Linked DNA regions of Homo sapiens: regions 1 and 2 are each linked to region 3. The links come from fine-mapping of genetic effects on gene expression. A gene starts in region 3. Each other region holds a variant in brackets. All regions are shown on one strand. Distances are from middle to middle.

Region 1 (8,190 bases), 150 kb before region 3:
ACATTTAATATGTAGAAATAGGACTCTTGTTATCTCTCAATCTGCCCTTCCCCCAGGCTTCTTAATAGAATGAATGACACCATTACATTCAATTGCTGAATCAAAACACAAAACAAAATATAATAAAACAGAAACAAAAATCTAGGAGTCATTGACTTACATGGTCCATAACAAACCCATCAGTAAATTCTGTTGTTTCTACCTCTAAAACATATGCTATATCCTCTCCCTTTTTTCATCTCTGTAGCCACCACCCCAGTCCAAAACACCATCCTTTCTTATAAAGACTACAGTTTCCTTTCAACCAGCCTGTCTGCTTTCACTCTTTAACCTCTTCCCCTGTTCTTTCCCCATATATCAGTCATCATGATTTTTTAAAAAATATGAATTGCATTAATTCAGTAATCTCATGATAAAACTTTAAAGACTTTCCATTGACTTAGAATAATATTAAAAATCTTTACTGGCATGTTCTTAACACATTTTGTTCAAATGACCTAGAAATTTAAAATGGACAACTAAGAGTAAATATTGGAGAAAAATTCCTGGCATTAAAAAAATAATATTTTAAAATAAAAAGGTCATATTTCTTCTAAAGATATCCAATTAATTGTTAAAGATAATAAGCAAAATATTTTGTAATATTGTCTCTTAGTGAGATGGATGGGACTTTTTTTTATTAGACCATATTTCTAGAGATTAACTTTTTTTATAGCTAGAATAAGATGGAGTTCAGAGTTCAGCATTAGTTTCATCCCTAATGTGTGCTTTAGGATTATTTTTTGCATAGGCAAATGTCAATTATATAGGTTGTCCAAATATGCCTTAAGAAGCTTAATAATTCATCTTAAGAGATGAATTCTTAAGAATTCTTGTATGTGGTTACCTATGTAATTTTATTTCATAGTCAAAAACTATTAAATCTGTAATTATGCATTTGACAAACCAAGCACATTCTTATCAACATCTGAGAGAGTGGAATTCAACCTAATTAAACAAAACTTTACTTCTATATTTCAGAGCATAACTTTCTGGATTGTAATTTGGGAACATTTTGTTCTACACCTGTACTTCAATGGATATTAGAGAGGACTTTAATCAACTTTGTAGAAATTAACAGCAGCAATAAGAGAATGAATTAAGTATGAGCTTATGAATAATACACTATTTACAGAAGAATCTGTAACATTTGATTGTAAACCAAAAATAAAATTCTAAGTCCCCCAACCATCTAAATGGACCCTTCTTCTCAGCCAAGGGCATTCCAAAGTTAACCTGGAAAACTAGTTCAGGCTGTGACAGGAAGGAGTTGAACATACCTCATTACACTCTCCTCCCTTTTGGAATTCGGGCCCACTTGACCAGCATTAATATCAACACAGACCTTAAGACTGATAGACTGTCTGAGTCTGGCAAGAAACATTTACAGTCTATTCTCTGAAGCCTGCTACCTGGAGGCTTCATCTGCAATAAAACCTTGGTCCACACAGCACATTATCTTAACCCTGACATTTCTTTCTGTTGATTTTAAATCTTTAGACAATACTTAACTCTTTTAACCAATTGTCAATCAGAAAATATTTGAATCTACCTCTGACCTGGAAGCCACCCCACCACCACCTTTCCGGACCAAACCAATGTACCTCCTACATGTATTGATTGAAGTCTTATGTTTTCCTAAAATGTATAAAGCCAAGGTGTAGCCTGACCACCTTGCGTCCATGTTCTCAGGATCGCCTGAGGGCTGTGTCATGGGCCATTGGTCACTCATATTTGGCTCAGAGTAAATCTCTTCAAATATTTTACAGACTGTACTAGTTAGTTTTCATACTGCTATGAAGACATACCTGAGACTGGGTAGTTTATAAAGGAAAGAGGTTTAATTGACTCACCATTCCACATGTCTTGGTTAGCCTCAGCAAACTTACAATCTTGGTGGAAAGCATCTCTTCACAGGACAGCAGGGAAGAGAATGAGTCCCAACTGAAGGAGGAAGGCCCTTATAAAACCATCAGATCTCGTGAGAACTTACTATCATGAGAATAGCATGGGGGAACTGCCCCCATGATACAATGATCTCCCACTGGGTTCCTTTCACCACATGTAGGGATTATGGGAACTACAACTGAAGATGAGATTTGGGTGGGGACACAGCCAAACCATATCACAGAGCTTGACTCTTTTCATCTATAGATTATTACATTTAAATCTGTTAATTGAAATCTAATAAATGAATCATGGGAATAAATAAAAGAGTAGGTAAGTGACTGAATGACAAACAGGAAAATTTCACCTAGTAAAATAAACAAGTATGATTTTATAGTATCCAATCATCTTTTAGCAACAATAAATGAGATGTATCTTTTCCAATGCTGAATAAATATTTAAGAAAAAGAAAACCCCTCCATCTTATCTTAAATATATGTGTACCTTCTTTTTTATATAATATTGACATGAAGAAAATAAACTTAGAAAATTATTTGACTCCTTACTTAAAAAGATCATGCAAAACATGCAATTGAGACACAGGCTAACTCATGGACAGAAGTAGTGTGTAATATCTCTTGGCTGTTTTGCCAGAACTCACCCCAAAAATGGCTTTCCTTTGTGAACCCTGAATATCTGAGACAGGTCTCAGTTAATTTAGAAAGTTTATTTTGCCAACGTTGAGGATGTGCACCCATGACACAGCCTCAGGAGGTCCTAATGACATGTGTCCAAGGTGGTTGGGGCACAGCTTGGTTTTATACACTTTAAGGAGACATGAGACATCAATCAATATATGTAAGATGTACATTGGTTCTGTCCAGAAAGGTGGGACAACTCAAAGCAGGGAGGCAGCTTCCAGGTCACAGGTAGGTGAGAGAAAAATAGCTTCATTCTTTTAAGTATCTGATTAGGCTTTCCAAAGGAAGCAATCAGATATGCATCTATCTTAGTGAGCAGAGGGATGACTTTGAATAGAATGGCAGGCAGGTTTGCCCTAAGCAGTTCCCAGCTTGACTATTCCCTTTAGCTTAGTGATTTGGGGGCCCCAAGATTTATTTTCCCATCAAATTTCCCCCCTTTTCTTTTAAAAATATTTGGAGGAAGCATTTTAGAAGACAGTGAGTCTCTGGTCTGGTCTCTCATGGCTAGGACAGTTTATTCCTAGATGGGTAGGTTTTAGGTTATTAGGAAAGCTCATTTTTAGCAGCTTGTGAAGTCTCATGTCCTGTGAAGAGAAAACAGAGGGAGGAAGGGAGAAAAACAACAACAACAAAAAGAACAATCCTAGAAAATTAATATAGCCACATTGCTCTGAAGTCCATATATCAATAGGCAGGTATGAAAGCGGCTTATGTATATAAATAAGTTGTTATTTTCTTCTGAAGTTTAAGTTGTCTAGCTTCAGTTTGCTAGGATTTAAGAAAGCATGGCTTAGTTTCCAGTGATTTCAAACTAGGAAAAATGGGGAAAAAAGGTAAAGAAAGAAAAAAAAATTGAAAGCATTATTTTGGAGACTTATAGCCAGGAAAAATTAGAATTCAGTCCAAAGTGTAGAAAATAATAAAATTTGAAAAACATTAGGCAAAACTAGAATGTAACAACAAGTATGCTGTAGTTTTTGAAACATATTTTTTTCTCTCTCCAGTTTCCCATTTTTACTAAAGACAAATCATGGTAGGACCAATTTGCTTTATTATACTAGGCCAGATTATTTGTATAAAGTGCAGCAGGAATAATTATTTTTTCCACATAGGCTTTTTAAATTGGCTTTGATGAAACTTTGTTCCATAGAGGGAATCTCAGATAAGACTACTGTAAAACCAAGCCCAGCCATGGATTTGTACCATCAAATATCTACGAGTTGGGTGAATTCCACTCCTCTTGTGGTCCCCAAAAAACCTGGGGCTCCTGGGCCTGTCAGAAAATGACATTCTTTACTTACCACAGGACAGGAACTGGGACAGGAACTGCGTAGACAAGGTATGAAGCCAGTTTTCCTAAGGGGCTTTTATTGGCAACTCTATAGGTCAAGTTTAATTTCTTAAAGGAAATCACACCATTCCAGTCAAAGCCTTGGTAAAATAAGCAGTTTCTCCAATTGTGTTCTGTTACAAATGAAAACTGATTCTTATTGCACTTATGCAAATAACTATTGCCATAGTTAAGAATACTCACAAATAGTTTCTGAATTCTGGAGAAATAAGGTAGAGAGAAACAAATATGCTCCACATTTTGTTCAGGAGCATACTTAATTGTTAAAAGCTGTCAATAGCTCAAAATAAAAGTTTTCTTGACTCTGAAAAACAAAACAAAGGATCAGCAATGTTTTAAGCAAGAAGTCTAAAAATCACTTCTGTCTTCTATTAGTTCAGCCCATGCAGCTAATTCCTTGATACTCATGAACATTTCAGCTCTCCATGAGTCCTGAAAATTTTTCCTCTATTCTGATATCACAGTCTCCAAACTTGTCAGAAACCTGCATTCAATAGCACCTGTTAGAGTTTTATAGCTGATTATAAAACCACCTTCTAAAGTGGACCAAAACAAAACAACTGTCTGTAGATGACAAGATGTTTTAGGGCAGCCGTTGTCAAAGACACAATTGACAAGGAAATTGTTACGTCTGTGGCACACAATAATTTAACATAACAATTATGATTAGTATGGATAATGTACACTAAGTCATATCAGAATTACAGGAGTTATTCATAATTTTGGAACACATACCAATAACATATTTATACGACTACAGCCGAAAGAAAACCAAACACCATTTCATATTTGACAATGCTTCCTGTACACTTTTTATACTAAATAAGCCAAATATCTCATTTTTGGACTTTAGGGAAGCTAATATCTTAAAGGATTAATTAGGTCAGAAAAAGACATAATTTATAATTTGATTTTGGAAAGTTTGTCAAATATCAAAGGTTAAAATACTTGATATCACAACATAGGATCACAGGTCATTGTCAGATAAGTCATTCATTTAACTGGAGTGATA[G/T]CTCAAGGATTTTTTTTAAAAATAGTGAAAACCTTCATTCTTTGAGAGAGGAGACTTAATTTTCCAAATACTAAGCCCTAATACAACAGGATGAAGCCAATTAAATTTGTTTTTCTAAACAATCTATAAAATTTTAATTTTGACCATAAGATATAGCTTCCGTAAGACTTTTATAACCATTATTAAGGAGTCAGTTAATGCTTCAAGAAAACCTTGTTAACCTGACACAGGGGCCCATATGCTGGTCTTGTATCAGTGTGTGCTTGACATTGATGGTTAATTTATAGAGAAAATGTAATTATTTTCTCTCTCAAAATTGGCCCTTACAATCTCACACACCCACCTCTTCTGCAATAGTCCCTGAGCCTCGAGGAGTTGAATAGCTTTAATTTCTGGTCCTGTGTGTCAAGAACACAGTTTATTTTGATTGGCATCTTCTACTGAGCCTGAAGATGAGGCTTTCATTGCTGTCAGTGTTTAAGACTTACCAGGACTTGATGTCCTTTTTAGACCTAGGAATCAAAGCCCTGTAACTCAGTGTCACAAGGACTTTAAAAGCACATACAGAAAGATACGCAGGTGTAATAACCTTAATTAAAAATAATTTTAATCTCAAAGTTTTTTCTAAACAAACCAAAACTTAATAATAATGGCATAGGAATTACTCAATAAAAGATAAAATCTGTTAGGTCAGTTACCAGAAGGCAAAAGAAAAGACCTGCAGTGCACAGAAAATTATGTTGGAAGAAAACATTTCCTTTATACCTTTAAGAAAACATTGTTAGCATCAGGCAACAACAAACAGAACCTGAGGGGGAAAAAACCTTAAATGAGCTGAAAATGAGTTGAAGGAGAGTGTTACTATCTAAAGTGGGTCTTTGGTAAAATGAGGCTCACAGTCACTGATTCTTAGAGTATACTTCAGATACAGATTTTAATACATACCTTTCTCTTCAGATTTTTTTCTAAAAAGACTTAGAGTTATAGAGTTTCAATGGATACCATGGCATTTTGTTTAATTTTTTCTACTTACAGGGTCAGTATCACTTTCAGAAAATTATAGCATTAAAAATGTATAATTTTAAATAGTATGTTTTTTCCAGAAAAGTTTTTTAAAATTTAAATATAATTGAGTAATAATTTTTAAAAAGATAAGATGGTTTCATCATTAATTTTTTTTTTCAAATCAGATACTTTATGCACCTGTGGTTTTCTTTTTTTAGCTTAATTCTTTTAAAAATTACAATTCAGATTGCAGATACGGTCACAGCAGGCTACCTTTTTAAGGTACGGGTCATTGTATGAGAACATATGTACTTGTTTGTTCTCAAAAAACAGATTCAGCAAGAAATAGGGTATGGTATTTATTCATGCAAGATAGAGTTTTGTAAAATACATGGTAACTTTAGGATATATTTTGTATATTATTTCGAACTTGGTATATGAGCCCATTAATACTATTTTATTTTTCTACATGACAAACAAGAAATATGGATAATCCTAGAATTTTTTTTTTATTGTAAAAGTAAAACATATCAAAGATGGGGAAGTTGAAGGAATAAAATACCATACCATTGGCAGTGCAATGGTTTGGAGCACAGACTTTAGGATCTAATTGACTAGATTCAAATTTCACCTGTGCCATTTACTAAAAGCATGTACTTGGCAATGCTATTTTACCTGTCTGGGCCTTAGTTCCTTTATTTGCAATGTGGAGATCATGTTAATAGTAACCATACCATAAGGTTGTTGTGAGATGAAATGAGAATTCAGGTAATCCATCTGGCTGTATTCACTAAGTATTCACTAAGCATTGCTAGCATCATTTAAGACTACCAGCTGATGATTTCCTAGTGTGCTTTTCCTCATGTATTTTTTCACATTTGTTATAAAAATATATGTATGTACATAGATAGCAACTTGATTTTCTTTCTTTTAAAATTAACATGTAATAATGCTTATTCTTTATAACTACAACGTTGCTAAACACTCTTTGTAGTCACACACAAAAAAAATGCAGACAACACACTGGCTCAAAAATCTTGTCCTGGTCATAGTAACCATTTAAAGTGCTTTTCCTAGAGCATCTGAGAACACTGATCCAAGTAACTGAGAGCAACCCTTTTCATCTGTGAGAAGGCACAATGTTACAGAAAATTAGATGCTTGTCCCAAGGGAAATTAGATATTCATTTTCACAATGTGTCTTCTGAGGGCACTTATAATGGGTTCCTCATGCTGGCTGCCTCAGTGATAGCTATGTGACTTAAGCCAGTGTCTCTTAGGGAAACTCCCGTTTTCCCTCGTCATCAGTTGCTATCTTGTTTCACCCAGAATGGAATTCCCAGAAGACTGCTGAACAAGAAGAAAGCTCTAACATTTTGTGGATTAGAAATATCAGAAGGCTGCTATATTCTGTAGGAGGGAAGAATAATTCAGAAAATGTCAATTCTGGCTGGGCACGGTGGCTCACACCTGTAATCCTAGCACTTTGGGAGGCCGAGGTGGGCAGATCACTTGAGGTCAGGAGTTCGAGACCAGCCTGACCAACATGGTGAAACACTGAATCTGCTAAAAATACAAAAATTAGCCAGAAGTTGCTTGAACCCAGGAGGTGGAGGTTGTAGTGAGCTGAGATTGTGTCACTGCACTCCAGCCTGGGCAACAGAGCAAGACTCCATCTCAAGAAAAAAAAAAAAAAGAAAGAAAGAAAATGTCAATTCTGTAATCTGGGTGAGTGCATTCTCCTTTTTCTCCTGTGGGACAGAAAGGGAATTTCTCCATTTTGTTTAACATCTGACATAATGTGATCATGAAACATGTAATGAATGCCTGCTGTGGGTCAGGAACTTTTCTAGGTCCTGGGGCTTGAACTCTGTTCTTCAGAAACTCCGATGTGTCGTATGTATCCAGACTCATCCTATGATTCAAGTTTTTTCATGATTTGACCTTACCCATTCAGCCAAACTTACCTCCTACATAATGCTCCACTGTGACCAACTCACCTGACTTCATTTATTCATGTCACAGATCCTAGTGAGTGCTTACCACAAGTTGGGTATGTTGTAGGAACTGCAGATATGGAGGCAATCTAAATGAAGTCCCTGCTTTCATAATTTTTAAAACCAGTATGAGATTCAGACTATAAACAAACATGATAACAGTAAATGTCATTATGCAGAAAAAATAAGAATGGAA
Region 2 (8,190 bases), 38 kb after region 3:
TGGAAATGAGAGAGATTCATGAAACCCCTCCTCCAGGAAAGAATGTCTTTCACAGATGGAGCTTTGCTTCTGGTTTGCACAGGACAGCGACAATGTGGCAGAGCCATGCCTGCCCTTCCTGCTCTTTCCAGTGATTCACAGAACTTCTGAACAGTGATGCTTGCCTTGGATTTTCAGGTTTTCATCCTGATACTTGTTTACTTTTCTGGGGCAGAAAAGCTTGCACTAATTGCTCTCCATGGTGGCTAATTTTTTCAAGAGCTTGATTTTACCTTACATTCATAAGCTTTGCAAAGGAATGTTTACAAAGAAATTGGGAAATACAAACAAAAACAAAGAGTATCGTCAGCAGAAAAAGGATCAAGACTTCCCCACTGCTGGCCAGACCAAATCCCCCAAATTTTCTTACACTTTTAAAAGCACTGTAAAGAAGATTGCAAAGTGTTCATCCACTCACAACTTATCCACTGAGGAAGACGAGGCCAGTAAAGAGTTTTCCCTCTCACCAACATTCAGTTACCGAGTAGCTATTGCCAATGGCCTACAAAAGAATGCTAAAGTAACCAACAGTGATAATGAGGATCTGCTTCAAGAGCTCTCTTCAATCGAGAGTTCCTACTCAGAATCATTAAATGAACTAAGGAGTAGCACAGAAAACCAGGCACAATCAACACACACAATGCCAGTTAGACGCAACAGAAAGAGTTCAAGCAGCCTTGCACCCTCTGAGGGCAGCTCTGACGGGGAGCGTACTCTACATGGCTTAAAACTGGGAGCTTTACGAAAACTGAGAAAATGGAAAAAGAGTCAAGAATGTGTCTCCTCAGACTCAGAGTTAAGCACCATGAAAAAATCCTGGGGAATAAGAAGTAAGTCTTTGGACAGAACTGTCCGAAACCCAAAGACAAATGCCCTGGAGCCAGGGTTCAGTTCCTCTGGCTGCATTAGCCAAACACATGATGTCATGGAAATGATCTTTAAGGAACTTCAGGGAATAAGTCAGATTGAAACAGAACTTTCTGAACTACGAGGGCACGTCAATGCTCTCAAGCACTCCATCGATGAGATCTCCAGCAGTGTGGAGGTTGTACAAAGTGAAATTGAGCAGTTGCGCACAGGGTTTGTCCAGTCTCGGAGGGAAACTAGAGACATCCATGATTATATTAAGCACTTAGGTCATATGGGTAGCAAGGCAAGCCTGAGATTTTTAAATGTGACTGAAGAAAGATTTGAATATGTTGAAAGCGTGGTGTACCAAATTCTAATAGATAAAATGGGTTTTTCAGATGCACCAAATGCTATTAAAATTGAATTTGCTCAGAGGATAGGACACCAGAGAGACTGCCCAAATGCAAAGCCTCGACCCATACTTGTGTACTTTGAAACCCCTCAACAAAGGGATTCTGTCTTAAAAAAGTCATATAAACTCAAAGGAACAGGCATTGGAATCTCAACAGATATTCTAACTCATGACATCAGAGAAAGAAAAGAGAAAGGGATACCATCCTCCCAGACATATGAGAGCATGGCTATAAAGTTGTCTACTCCAGAGCCAAAAATCAAGAAGAACAATTGGCAGTCACCTGATGACAGTGATGAAGATCTTGAATCTGACCTCAATAGAAACAGTTACGCTGTGCTTTCCAAGTCAGAGCTTCTAACAAAGGGAAGTACTTCCAAGCCAAGCTCAAAATCACACAGTGCTAGATCCAAGAATAAAACTGCTAATAGCAGCAGAATTTCAAATAAATCAGATTATGATAAAATCTCCTCACAGTTGCCAGAATCAGATATCTTGGAAAAGCAAACCACAACCCATTATGCAGATGCAACACCTCTCTGGCACTCACAGAGTGATTTTTTCACTGCTAAACTTAGTCGTTCTGAATCAGATTTTTCCAAATTGTGTCAGTCTTACTCAGAAGATTTTTCAGAAAATCAGTTTTTCACTAGAACTAATGGAAGCTCTCTCCTGTCATCTTCGGACCGGGAGCTATGGCAGAGGAAACAGGAAGGAACAGCGACCCTGTATGACAGTCCCAAGGACCAGCATTTGAATGGAGGTGTTCAGGGTATCCAAGGGCAGACTGAAACTGAAAACACAGAAACTGTGGATAGTGGAATGAGTAATGGCATGGTGTGTGCATCTGGAGACCGGAGTCATTACAGTGATTCTCAGCTCTCTTTACATGAGGATCTTTCTCCATGGAAGGAATGGAATCAAGGAGCTGATTTAGGCTTGGATTCATCCACCCAGGAAGGTTTTGATTATGAAACAAACAGTCTTTTTGACCAACAGCTTGATGTTTACAATAAAGACCTAGAATACTTGGGAAAGTGCCACAGTGATCTTCAAGATGACTCAGAGAGCTACGACTTAACTCAAGATGACAATTCTTCTCCATGCCCTGGCTTGGATAATGAACCACAAGGCCAGTGGGTTGGCCAATATGATTCTTATCAGGGAGCTAATTCTAATGAGCTATACCAAAATCAAAACCAGTTGTCCATGATGTATCGAAGTCAAAGTGAATTGCAAAGTGATGATTCAGAGGATGCCCCACCCAAATCATGGCATAGTCGATTAAGCATTGACCTTTCTGATAAGACTTTCAGCTTCCCAAAATTTGGATCTACACTGCAGAGGGCTAAATCAGCCTTGGAAGTAGTATGGAACAAAAGCACACAGAGTCTGAGTGGGTATGAGGACAGTGGCTCTTCATTAATGGGGAGATTTCGGACATTATCTCAATCAACTGCAAATGAGTCAAGTACCACACTTGACTCTGATGTCTACACGGAGCCCTATTACTATAAAGCAGAGGATGAGGAAGATTATACTGAACCAGTGGCTGACAATGAAACAGATTATGTTGAAGTCATGGAACAAGTCCTTGCTAAACTAGAAAACAGGACTAGTATTACTGAAACAGATGAACAAATGCAAGCATATGATCACCTTTCATATGAAACACCTTATGAAACCCCACAAGATGAGGGTTATGATGGTCCAGCAGATGATATGGTTAGTGAAGAGGGGTTAGAACCCTTAAATGAAACATCAGCTGAGATGGAAATAAGAGAAGATGAAAACCAAAACATTCCTGAACAGCCAGTGGAGATCACAAAGCCAAAGAGAATTCGTCCTTCTTTCAAAGAAGCAGCTTTAAGGGCCTATAAAAAGCAAATGGCAGAGTTGGAAGAGAAGATCTTGGCTGGAGGTATTCATGTTTAAATGCTACATTGTGAGCTAATTGTGTTTTAACATTGGGTAGCACTTCTTTAGAGCATGCTCTGTGTTTACTTGGGTGAAAGAGTTTACTTGCAATGACTTTCCATGCTTTACTCTGAGGAGCATTTTGTTTTACTCAGGCAGCTCTCCTAAGAAGTTGGGCTTGATGATTTAAAATCAAAGAATATGTTAAATGGGTCATATTGGAATGAGCCCAAACTTAACCCAACACATTGTGGATCAGATTTCTCTGCTAAATTTAGGCACAAACCCCATTTAACATCAACTAACTTTGTGGCATCAGTTGTCAAACAAAAGTTGAGTGAAACCAAAGGTTAAGCCAACAGCCTGGCATCTATTTCTTGGTTCCATTAAGTTTACAGGGATGGAGAAAAAGGTGTAATCTTAAAAAAAAATGTGAAAAGATGGACTCTGAGACTTAACCACTCATTTTCCTATCCATTCAACAATTTAGGGGTTGCCCATAGGAAAAGTTGTGTGTGCACAGGACAGTCCCATGGAAGACCATGGACTCCCTTACAACCTACTGGCACAGTCAGGGAGAGCAATAGAGCCAAGGCCCTAGGTCATGTCTGAGTGGTCACAAGCTATTCTTTGAGAAGAGATCAGTAAGGGGATAGAGTTGAGTGGTTACCTTCTTAAGAATAAAGTCCCTTCTCCACCATGGAAATGAGAAGAGTACCTTAACTAACTATTTTAATTGCTTTCTTGTGGGAACAACTTTGGATTATATACTTTTGGAAAGTGATAGTTATATGTAAATGTAAGAGTTTGTTTACTTTCTATTTCTCAACCCAACTTCCTCCGCACTTATTCCACTCCCTTACCATTTATTTTAGTTGCATGCTAATTACTTACATTTTTGGAATAGTCTGTTACTATCTAAATTTAAATGAATTGCATATTATTATTATGTTCCCTGATCATGGGATTGTCATCATTAA[T/C]TAAGCTATTACTCTACATAATACTTCATAAAGGTGTATATGACCAAGTGTTACTTGCTATTATCAAATAACATAATAATATCTGCAGCCAGTAGCTGGTTATATCTTCTCTGTCTTGACCAAAGCTGTGATCAAACTCCCCTAAATGAGCCATTTTGTGGTTGATGTGAGTAGATTATTGAATAATCAGAAATCTTTACTGCTAAACTATTTGAATTTCTAAGACAACTGAAATAACTAGGGTTTGCCACTCTAAAAATCTATCTTTATAAAACAACACAGTTTATGTAATTTATTTAGGAATGATATAAGTCAAAGGGATCTTGAATGCACTGGCTGTTGCAACATTTTGTGTTTTTGTTTTTTTTGCAGGGATGGGTAGTTCTCAACTATATTTAAAACTGATTTAAGAGTGAAAAGTAGTCAAATGTTATGCAAATGTAATGCATATGGTAATAATATCTATCTTATATTGGAGTGATTTTTGAGAGTCGGATATCCTTGTTACTGAAATTCATTTGCTATTTCTTGGGATACAGGCCAGCAGTTTGACAATGTATTTTATTTGCTGTTGATTCAGAGTTTACTCAAAGGCAAATGAAGACTAAGAAGTGCATGAGCATGTGTGTGTGTGTGTGTGTGTGTGTGTGTGGTTTGTATATATCTGTTGTGACATAATAGAGAAATGTTTTAATGGCAGTTGGTTAATGTAGTTGCTTGAAATGTTAGGCAATATCATAAATAGGACAAGATGATACATTTCAGAAAAATGGATCTTCTTCAACTTCTAAAAATTCCAAATTAGCAAGCCTCTGCAAAGCAGATTGTTACTGATGGTGACCCTTCAGCCAGCTAACAAACTTAGTCATCCAGTGAGTGGCACTTAACCTTGGAATACACACATGCTCTTGGTTATCTATAGCCACCTGGTTAAGAATAAAACCACGGATAAAACAATCCTGTGCCATTTACCTGCATATGAGGCCTGGCTATAGAGGACTCAGACCCCTCCATCCTCTTGGAGCTTGGCTTCTTATTATCCTGTGAGCCAACTTTGAATGGAATCTGTTGGATATCATCTGTCCTAGAGGAAATCAGCACACACATCTTTAAGATGGTCTCTGGTTGCTGAAAGGTACCAGATTGACTACCCAGGAAGCTGCGGTAGCCTAGATTTTAAAGGCTATCTCTGCTCCCCTTGGCAGCAGTCAGGCAGTTTTCCCCATCCTGTGCCACCCATATGCCTCTGAAGGAAGGACAGCCAAAGAAGGACATTTTCCAGGCCCCTTTCCTGCTCAGAGCATCCCAAAGAGGTGCCAATTGTCATGATGGTTTCTGTTCCCATGGCCATCTGCTTACTGGGCTTTGGGAAGATGCCAACATATTTTTTCTCTCCATGGCTACGTAGTTATCACGAGGTAGCAGTGCTGTCTTTTCTCCATAAGTAACCTTAGCCAGATTGGAGTGCAGAGCTCTTGCTGTCAAACTGTGGGATGCTGTCTCTCTGACACAGCTTTATGGAATTATAAGCTCACACATTTGAATTATTTATTTCAACTGTTGTCTTCAGGATCCAGAGGACCAGAAAACTCCAATGTTTATAGATGTGGATATTTGATGATAATGTTTCAGAGAACTTTCCACCTTAAACAGCATTCCAGTAGGAAGAGACCTTAGAGTGTGTGTAGCCAGAAGCTTCCCCATGAGTCAAATTCTTCCATTGTTGCTGGCCCCTGCTGAGTTGGCACCATTTGTGCAGCTGTCTTGATTCCTACACCATGATGGTGACTCTCTGATCCCCCACCTTCAGCCTTGTACCACCTATCAACTGGAATTAACTATTTATTGTCTCCTCAAAATTCCCATGTACTTGCCTCTTATCACACTGACTCTCATATTTATGTGCATTTCTCATTTTCTATTCCAGAATAGTCTAGAGGCAAGTTGTCTTTTTTTTTAATCCTTTAACTTGTACTGTGCCTAGACCAGTGTTTTATACCCATATGGCATTGAGTTAATATGTGTTGGATAAATGCCTGAATCAAGAGAGGTGGGATACTAAATAAAAAAACACAAACTTTAAAGTCAAATCCAAATTCAAACTGTGGCTTTTAATCGCTAAGACTATGACTTTATCTCCTGAGAACTCAGAAGAATAGACATAAAAGCTTATTACTCAGAATTACTATATATTAGGCCCTTTCCAGGCTGTTTACCTGTTTTTCATTCTTTTACTTCTTATAACACCACTATTAATTTTATTTTATTATTATCCCATTTTACAGGTGAGGAAGCAGATGCTGAAAACTTACCTAGCTTAATGTCATTCAGCTAATAAGTGGTGGATCCAGAATTACATGGATTGTTACTTTGGCTATTTAGAGCAGCAGTATGCTTATTCACTTCAAAGGTTGTTTTTATTCAAGTTTTAAGTTGGAAAAACTGATAAGAGATGAAGAACAGAGTCAGCCACTAGGTTTAGTTCAACTCAGAGATATTCACGAGAAACCAGTATGAATATGAAAGGCACTAAGTTTCTGGGACTCTCAGGTTTTGATGTGAAATAGTTCATTCTCAGTGTTTCTACTTCAAATCCCTGGTTCATTTTATAAATCAAGATTTGTAGAGTGCAATAAATACTGTACTATAACAGCTGCTTGAAGGATGTTGTATTTGCAGTCTGATACACTTTACCTGAAATCAGAACCTGACGTCAGTTTGAAGTATTAATAGTTTTCCTAGCAGAAGACCAAAAATCTTGTTCTGAAAGAGACTGTGATATCGGAAATTAGCATACTTCCTAGTTTTTACATCATGTATATATTCTGTTTTCTGAATGGTTATAAAACTGTCAGAATATGTTGACTTCCAAGTAAGGATATAAAACTGAAGGTATTAAAATTTCCTAAGGTAGATACTTTGTTAGACTAGTGGTTCCTAATCTGGCTGGTTGTTAGAATCATCTGGAAAGCTTTTGTAGTAGTTGTTCCTGGGATGTTATTTTAAAATGACCAATTATTAGCATATTTTCACAGATTATTGTGACTTGGTGGTCCTACAACGGGGCCAGGCATATGCCTTTAAATTACACGAGTTACTGATGTAATATATGCCCTTTAATAAAACAACAGCAACAACCACACACACAATTAAAAACATAATAAAACAAAATCTAAAATGAAAAGTAAAAAAGCTCACCTGTGGACAGTCCAGGTCAGGAGGATGCAGTCTGGCTATTCAGATGCTCCCTTGACGGTTCTGAGGGATGTGATCATCAGAACACATTTGAAGAGCACTACTAAAAGCTATGTAGCAAATATACCTGCTCACACGGCGTTCTTAATTTCCCCCTTTTTAAACTTGAAAGAGATAAAATCAGTCTAAGGAAAAATATTAATAATTTTTTTCTTTTTTTCTTTTTTTTTTTTTTGAGATGAAGTCTCATTCTGTCACCCAGACTGGAGTGCAGTGGCACGATCTCAGCTCACTGCAACCTCCTCCTCCTGGGTTCAAGCGATTCTCCTGCCTCAGCCTCCCGAGTAGCTGAGACTACAGGCATGCACCACCACGCCCAGCTAATTTTTTTTTTTTTTTTTTTTTTAATTAGAGATGGAGTTTCACCATATTATCCAGGCTGGTCTCGAACTCCTGACCTCGTGATCTGCCTGCCTTGGCCTCCCAAAGTGTTGGGATTACAGGCGTGAACCACCACACCCGGCCGATTTTTCTTAACTTAAAAACAAAAGATGTTTTGTCAACCTTTCAGAGTTAAGTAGATTATTACATTTTGTGAAAAGGCTTTAGTAATATCTACATATGAAAATAGAGCAATAAAGATGTATTCCTTAAAAGGTATGTATGAATTTAAAATTTTAGAAATCATCTGTATCAAAAGTCCTAGGGGATTTTCCTGTAGAAACCATTTAGTGCATAATTTTGCCTACAAATAAATTCCTATCCTTCCACATTTTATCTGACAACTTGGGGCTTTTT
Region 3 (8,190 bases):
TGTCCTTAGCCTCATTAACTCTGTGCTTTACTAAGCAAGCACACTATTATTCACTCACTCATCAACCTACCTTTTATGAGTCTAGCCTTCAGCTGGGCATTGGTGATATAAAAATGAATGAACCATGGTCTCTGCCCTCAAGGAGCTCGCAGTCCAGCAAGGAAAATCAGGCAGATGAGTAAAATAGTAGTTAGCATACTGTATAATAAATCAGTGCCACAACAGAGATTTATGAAAGCGCTTAGAAGGCACTGCCAATACTGACTGGAGAAGTACAGCATCCATATCTTGTGACAGAATTTGTTGAGCCTAAAATTTTACTTCTTAAATCACTTAGATGCATTTAAATCCCACAGTTGAAAAATAATCTCATTCCTCAGTTGGAAAAGTCAAAAGCACTTTTTTTTTTTTTTCATTTAAACAATGAACATTTATTATCTCACAGTTCCTGTGGGCCAGAAATTCGAGAATAGCTTACCTGGGTTTTTCTGCCTCAGGGTTTCTCATGTGGTTGCATTTAGCATGTCAGCAGTGGTTGCAGTCATTTGAAAGCTTGAACATGGTTAGAGGGTCAGCTTCTAAAATGGCTCATTCGCATGCCTGTTGGCAGGAGGTCACAGTTTGTGTCTGGCTGTTGGCAGGAGTCCTTAGTTCCTTGCCACGTGGACTTCCCCCTAGGCTGCTTGAGTATCCTCATGACATGGCAACTAACTTCCTCCAGAGTGAGCAAACCAGAGTGGGCAAACAGGAAGTGGCAGTACCTTATGTGGCCTAGTCTCTAAAGTTACATACTGTCAATTCTACTCAAAAGTGCCATTTTAAAGTGACCCATACTTTAATGGAAAGCTTTAATTTAAGAACAGAACTTAACGTGTGTTTTACTACCATGTAATCTATGCTAGGCACATCTTTCCAAATTGCATAAGATGGTTTATTTCCAAATAGTCGTTCTCCTATACATTATTTACTTATATAGAGCTAGAAATGCCAACTTGCTGTTTTAAACATAATCATATTTTTCTCCGTAATTATCTGGACAACTAATCCATTTTGCCAATCCATTTGCATGGAAACAGAGAGCCAATGATTGGTCAGAGTATTGTTTTTTAAAAAATATAATAGTGAGGTTCAATGGTTGGTTACCAATTCCCTAAAATAAAGATCGAGGTTTTCTAAAACACTGAAAACACAATTCCATGCACACAGGATTGGTTTATGCTTTTTCAAGGATTCCTCTATTGCTTAAAGCCAGATATACAGGCCATGACACAATTCTACAAGAATGACCCCTTTACTTGATTCTTTTGGTTTAGTCAAGCTTCACTACTACTGTACTAAAAAATAAGCAGTGACCCAGGTTCCTTGCTTTTCTTCCACCTGAACCATAAATGAGACAAATGATCTGGCTCAGCTTATGTCTTGGGGTATGAGAGGTGAATGGTACCCTAGAGGTTTTATTCTTTCTGAAATGACTGCTGAAGCATTTGGAGGAGAAATGATCTTATTATTTAATCCAACCATCTATAAGTTTTGAGGCATGTACCTATGGATGGGGTGAGTGTATAAATAGAAATTACTTCTTATCCTGTGTTGTTTAATGTTATTAATTCAAGACTTTGAAAAGCTCCGTAGAAACAGAATGCATCTTACTGATAAGAATGTGGCTCTTACTGTTGAAATCTCATCGTTGTAATTACACATTATTCAAATCAGGTACTCAGTAGTGAAAACTACTCGTCAAAAGCCAAAACATTTCTACTAGGGATTTTGATGTCCCTGCAGGTCAATAAAGTCATAAAGCTCTGTCACTCTAACGGCAACATATTTTATTAGCAGCCAGAGTCCCTCACATACATGTTTCCTGCCACTTTCAGAGATGTAAACAATTTCCATTTTGAAATATATGACCAGAATCCTGATTATTAGAGCTTAGCACTGCATTCATTAAAACACACATGCTGGCATCGAAGCATTCATGAAACATTATTTCTTCTTTCCAATAAAAACTAATGATTACCACCCCTGGTGTGATTCATTTCCTCTACGAGAATATTTGAATTAGAGCAATATTTTCAAACTTTTCATGGCACTACATACATGGTGTTTTTTTTTCTTCTTTCTCTCTCTCTCTCTCTCTCTTTTTTTTTTTTTTTTTTCAGTCTTGCTCTGTCGCCCAGGCTGGAGTGCAATGGCGCGATCTTGGCTCACTACAACCTCCGCCTTCCAGGTTCAAGTGATTCTACTGCCTCAGCCTCCTGAGTAGCTGGGATTACAGGCACCCGCCACCAAGTCTGGCTAATTTTCCTACATACATGTTTTATAGACCGCTCATGGTTAGAATCATCTTTCATTTATTTCCTTCTGTAGGTTTAAACATTTACATCACTGACATTAAATCCAAATTTACTGAAGACGTATGCACATTTACCTTATTCTGGGTGCTAGGGTCTCTCAGCTGACCACAGCTTCTGTACTTTGCAGTGGTTATTTCACACCAAAAAGTGAAAACAGATTCAGTGAATAGGTGTTCTTTTCTCTATGTATTAAAACACGTTCTTCAAAATAGTGTATTGGCTAGCATGAGTTTTTCTGTATAAAAAAGTCAAGTTTCGCCCTATCAGGTGCTTCTAGGTCTAACCGGTTTTCCTGTGCTACTCTCCAGTGTTACAGCCGGGGGCAGCAGAGCTTTGTCCTGCCTGCCACTCCCGTGATGAGTGAAGGCAGGAATAAGACTGCCCTGGTACTTGCCCCTGATGCAGATCATTAGACCTTGAGCAGCTGCTCAGGTCCATTAACAGTCACTTAAGCAGCGGGTAAGGGAAGCTGTGCTGCTCTGAATTAAAGGTGGGGCTGATAGCTGGGAATGGGGAGGGCTCAGCTGCTAGTACCCAACATATATATTGTGTCACATTTGGGGACACTTTTTTAAACATCATGGAGAGGTTATTTATTGGTTGTCACATACGGTAGGTGAAATGTTTTGCCACAAGTTTTGCCACAAAATGCTATATCCGGTTTAACTGTTTATTTTGATGGCAACTATTATTATTGAATATTTAGGTGGAGTCAATTCTAATGTCAGTCAAGACATATTCATCCCTCCATGTACTGAAAAATGCCATACAAATCTGTATATATGCTTCCTATACTGTTTAACCACAGCTGCTAGTTGACGTTCTTCAGTCCTGGAAATATCCTTCCATTTTCTAAAAAGCAAAGAAAAGTAAAATTTTAAGTAAGCAGTAGAGCAGATGTAGCTTAAAACCTCCAAATTATTTCAGGCCTCAAGCTGCTTTAAGGCTGTATTTTAAGATTCAGTACTTTTTTATTTGTTTCAACAGGAGGATTAGAGGATTGAAAATGCTTTATTGATGGAAAGTGGGAACTGTTACTCCCCCCACCTCCTCTACTCAGCAAAACTAAAAGAGAAAGCAAGTCCATTCAATTCCCAGCCAGATCTTTAAAATGTTAACATCAAATGAAAAGACATTATTCCTAAGTGAGAAGAAAAACCTTTGCATCACTGTAAGTTACCCATCATTTCCCACTTTGATTTATGCATGTGTCATTAATTGAAATTGTTCAGGAATCACCTTCAAATGGTTTTCCACAAAAATAAGAGGAAAAACCAACTGGGATGGGATATCAGTATCTCCTCTATTTAAATACAGGGTCCTGTTAGCTGCATTTGGTGGCTAATAGGGAATGATACTGTGTGCGGTATACTTTCATAATTCCAAGTACAGTCAAGTACATCTAAAACAGTCATTGTTGAATAACATGGGTAATTTAGTATTATCCACGCTATTCCACTGGCAGAATTGGCCATGACTGTCTCCTAGGTCATCATCCAGCGATAAAGGGAAGATAGGCTGAGGAAGCTCTGGCATTCAGGCGTCTCCCAGCGATGAAGCTGTGTCCCACACAGTTAGTTGTCAGTGCGGTGGTGAAGGCCACACCTGGCAGTGGCTACAGTGCGTCTCCTGTGAGCAGGGGCTGTAGCTCACCCTCTCGGAGCTACGCCGTGCTACGGCGGCAGGAGAGGGAGCCCGGGCGCTCTCGGTGGAGGAGGCTGGGGATCGCAGTGCCGGTGCTGCATTCAGAAAAGACTCAGCCGCAGCCGGCGATGTGTGAAGTTCCCAGCACGCACTCAGCCCGGCTGCTCCTCACCCTCAAATGTTGATGAGCCTGGGCGCTCCTCAACACACGGGAGAGATCCCATTTTGCTTTCTGGGAGAAAGAGATGAGAAATGAGCCGCGGAAGGTATTTGGCAATGAGAAGAGTGAAAGGCAGTTTCTTGCCAGCAGCTAAGTTGTAGAATTGCTTCGGAGGCTACCCGGGAGTGCGATAGAATTGACAAGAAAAGAACAGACACCGTTGCAGACCAAGGCATGCCTGATTGCACGAGTCGGATCCCTGGGACGCAGCTTCCACTCCTGTTCTAACTATTTGTGATTGAAAAAAGGAAACGAGACTAGAAACACAATTGCAAGTGGTGTTCCTAAAAGGAAAACACATACACTCCAAAAGGAGGGGAAGAACAACCCAGTTGGCGTGCACATTTTTTTTTAAAGGAGAATTCCTCAGGTATGTTCTTTCCTCCGTTGCACGCACTGCTTCATCTGCATGCGATTTTCTGTCTGTATTTTCCTGTCCCTTCTTTTTGTTTGCACTTGGAAATCACAACCATGGGGTTCTCTTAGCGTAGCAGATATATTTGTAAAATCTCGGCTCTCCTGTTTTTATAATGTACATGATTCTATGGAGCATCATGACTTCTCAGTCATTGCTTTTAAAAAAAGAATTCAGAATGATAAATGACTGCTTAGTTTCCAGTCAACTTTCAGGAGAATATCTACATAGGGACAAATAGGGTTGAGATGAAAGGCTGGGATATTCCATAACCCCTCGGAATTTTGGAAGAAAAAAATAGAGCTCAACAGAGAACAAAAGTTGAGGGCTTCTAGGAAAGGGTTAAAAGCCAAGATGTCATACACTAGTGTGTCACCCAAGTGTTTTTCCAGCTCAGCATCCAGTCTGAAGCAAAAGAAGCTTTACCAATGATTTTTTTATTTCTAGCTCTTCATCAGTTCTTCAAGAAGAAGATCCTGCAGATTTACTTTCAAGAGATGAATTGCTTAAATTGTGTGCTTGGTTCTGTTTTACAACTGTTCTGTGGTGCTCAAGGAGGCAGTCTAAAAAAATCCCTTTGGTCCAACAGCATGAGTAAACCCTAACTTCTGCAATTACATCATCAATATACTTGTATCATCAAGAGTAAGACAGATATACAACAATAGTAATGTTGGCTGTCTTTAGTACCTAGACGGAGATGACAACACTTAAAAATCAATTTTCCTCGTTAGGCTTTTAAGGAAAAACAGGAAAGAGGTTTGAGGGTGGGTAATGCTTATAAAGATTAGTTTTAAAATACTCTGCATTTCTTTAAGAAGCTAAAATTGTAAGTTTATATAATTTTGAAATTAATAAAAAACTTAATGATTTTTAGAAAATCATCTTACCACCTTTTGCTCATCAATACTTTTCATAAAAGTGGGTTAAATTGTCAATAAATTAAATGTGCATATGTCTATATTAAATGAGATTTTCTGGAGGGGAGAAACGAGAATGAGAAAGTACTACATTTTTGTATATATAAAATATTTAATAGATTTTTAGTGTTAACACAGAGTTAATGCCAAAGCTCTAGGACCCTGGCTTTTAATTATTGTTGTTCCCACTTTCTTATGATTAAAAAGTTCAAATGCAATAGAGGTAAGTGGGCTTTAAATTGTCATTTATGCATACTGTAAAGTAAATCACCACCCTGCTCTTTGAAAACTATAAACCTCATTTTTGCCAAATGGTAGCTATCTGGAGCACTTAGGCCGTAAACAAAATGAGGAAATCATTTGTTTTAAAATTCCACGCATGACTATAACAACAACAATGTCAAAATATGGTAAGTATAGGCAATTCTTGATACCAGAGGAGTGATTTAGAAAATGAGCAAAGTATTAAGTTTATGTTTGTTAGTAGGGAGTGAAAAACATTGTGTGTTTCTTCTATGTTGACATCTTGTATAAAGAAGCTTATGATGTCTGTAGGTGAAACACTATAGCAGTAATTTTACTGAATCCATTAAGTAATTTTTTAAACTAATAAACTGATCAAGGATCATCTAAAAGAATATTTGAAACTCTAATTTACAAAATTGTATTTTCAAACTATAATGGAATTTTGTTGAGAAAGTAATTTCAGTAGAATTGCCAATGTTTTTTCAGTAAAATTTGAAGGTGGATAGTAGGTAAGGGTTTATTTCCTAGCATTCAATAATTTGTTGTTAGACCTCCATTAAAGAAATCTGGAAACTCCTTCCAGAGATCATCATCACTATGTGCTAGGTAAATTCATGCCCAGGTGAAATACGAGGTAAAGTGTTAGCAAAGCCTAGAGAAATCACTTTTCATGGGCTTATTGTTAATAAAGTAAACTGTTTTCCTTTCCAGGCCATATAATAACTTGCTATGGTTGCTAATCTTTAAATGTGAAGCAATATAGTTTGTGGTGCACAGAACTAGTTGCTTAAGAGCCCATGGGTCATTGGAAACACAGGATAATTGCAGTGATTCCCCTTTTAAAGACAAAACACACCAAATGTATGTTGGGGCTTAGGTGGGGTTGGGAGGAAGGTCAGTGCAGAAGAGAACGTACTTCGTTGTCTGCTGATTTAGGGCAAACCTCTGTTTTTTGTAATATCAGACACTTTTGGTATGATAATATCTTTTCCCCGATTCTCCAGGCACTTTCATTTCTGTTAACCTTTTCAGCTAATGCAATGCATAAACCCTGCCATAACTTCTCTGAAGTATTATGCCACCTGTACGTTGTCTTCCAGTTTCAACATATATGTTTCTGTTATTCATTCTTTCCATCCCATAGTCTTTACTACGGAAAGGCATTCTCTAGAATTTTTGAAGACATTAGAATCATTTTGTCACCCAAGAAAAACAATCCTGCTTTGCATCTAGAAATTTTAAGAGTTTTAAATACATGCCAAGTTTGTTTCTGAAATACACTTTTATAGCTAGAAAGCCACTTTCTAAATAGGTCATAGTTTGTACCTAATATCAATTCATTTGGTAATATGCATTTAGAATAACTGTAGCAAAAAATTGCAAATTCAAAGTATCAAATTTGTATTTCTGTTGTTATTACAAATCCTTTCTGGATCTTAAGTTGTCTGTGGTTGGATCACTAGGCTCCAACTTTCTTCTAGCTTAAAAAAAAGGATTTATTAATAGCCCTCTCAATCTGTAGCTTTTGAGAATGCAAAAGACTGATCACCGGTTCTATAATCTCTACAGAGAAAATGGATGCCACAGCAGTATTTGTTTCACTTGTAGTCTTTTAAGGCATAGGAAGGGAGACAGGAATAAATATTCTAACCTCTAGGTCAAAAGTCCCCCAGAGGAGAAGTAGACAATAAGACACACTGAATCGTTTCTCCATCTCTTGTCAAAATGGTTGTGATGCAGTAGGCATAAATGTTTCCCATCTCTTTTATATCCTAGTCATATTGTATATTTTAGTCTCAGCATACAGAAATTAATTATAATCTTGATATGGAAGAGAGTTTTATATTATTCTTCCTATGTAAACAGTTAAGAAAATATTTTGTAGAAATAAATGCTAGATAGAAAGATAGGAACTCAACATTATAAATTGTACTCAGAGATTTCGAAGTATTTTTAAAAAGTAATCATAAAAGATGGGCTTCCCTTTCAAATATTTTCTTGTCTCCCTACATTTTCACAATCCCATCTTCAGCCTGTCTTTTGCTCCCAACAGCCAATTTTTGTTGGCCCAAATCCTGCGTTCAGGATAAAACATACTTTGTTTCTGAGCCTTCTGGTTCTTGAGAATCTGGGTGCAATATGTCTTTTTGATGGGGAAAAAGTGTTTTGCATGAAAATATTTTGCTTCATGTGTTTTATAAGTTGAAATTATTTACTCTAGAAGTAGCTTCTCGAAGCATGTAAAATATAAAAGAAAAAGAGCAGTGATTGGACAGAGTGGGTGGCTATTTCCTTTATAGGTGGGAAGAACTAATGGCTTAGGCACATTCCCTGAAGCACGTTTCTGAAAGGGGGCACTGATGATATGGTCTCAGAATAACTGGAGGAAGA

Which allele goes with the higher level. Positions count from the first base shown, and alleles are read on the strand shown. Sizes are in standard deviations (SD) of each study's normalised expression.
For the expression in thyroid of the gene that starts at base 4,102 in region 3, allele G in region 1 goes with a lower level than allele T (moderate effect, 0.63 SD a copy in GTEx).
For the expression in prefrontal cortex of the gene that starts at base 4,102 in region 3, T is the high allele of the variant in region 2 and C is the other (small effect, 0.23 SD a copy in CommonMind).

Evidence for each region.
Region 1: its variant is fine-mapped to the expression of UNC13C in thyroid (GTEx, PIP above 0.99).
Region 2: its variant is fine-mapped to the expression of UNC13C in prefrontal cortex (CommonMind, PIP 0.95).

Annotation. Positions count from the first base shown.
Region 1 is chr15:53,820,252-53,828,441 of GRCh38, forward strand. No RefSeq gene overlaps it. Among named protein-coding and RNA genes, the nearest start is that of WDR72, 65 kb to the left of the region's middle. RefSeq lists an enhancer at 2,005-2,174. The variant G/T (reference allele first, on the strand shown) is at 4,994.
Region 2 is chr15:54,012,666-54,020,855 of GRCh38, forward strand. It overlaps UNC13C (unc-13 homolog C), which reads left to right. Exons shown (of 33, transcript NM_001080534.3): 2 at 1-3,221. The coding sequence starts at 239. Among named protein-coding and RNA genes, the nearest start is that of UNC13C, 38 kb to the left of the region's middle. The variant T/C (reference allele first, on the strand shown) is at 4,198.
Region 3 is chr15:53,974,340-53,982,529 of GRCh38, forward strand. UNC13C (unc-13 homolog C) reads left to right here and starts at 4,102. Exons shown (of 33, transcript NM_001080534.3): 1 at 4,102-4,588. It overlaps LOC124903495 (a long non-coding RNA gene), which reads right to left. Exons shown (of 2, transcript XR_007064646.1): 2 at 3,011-3,206.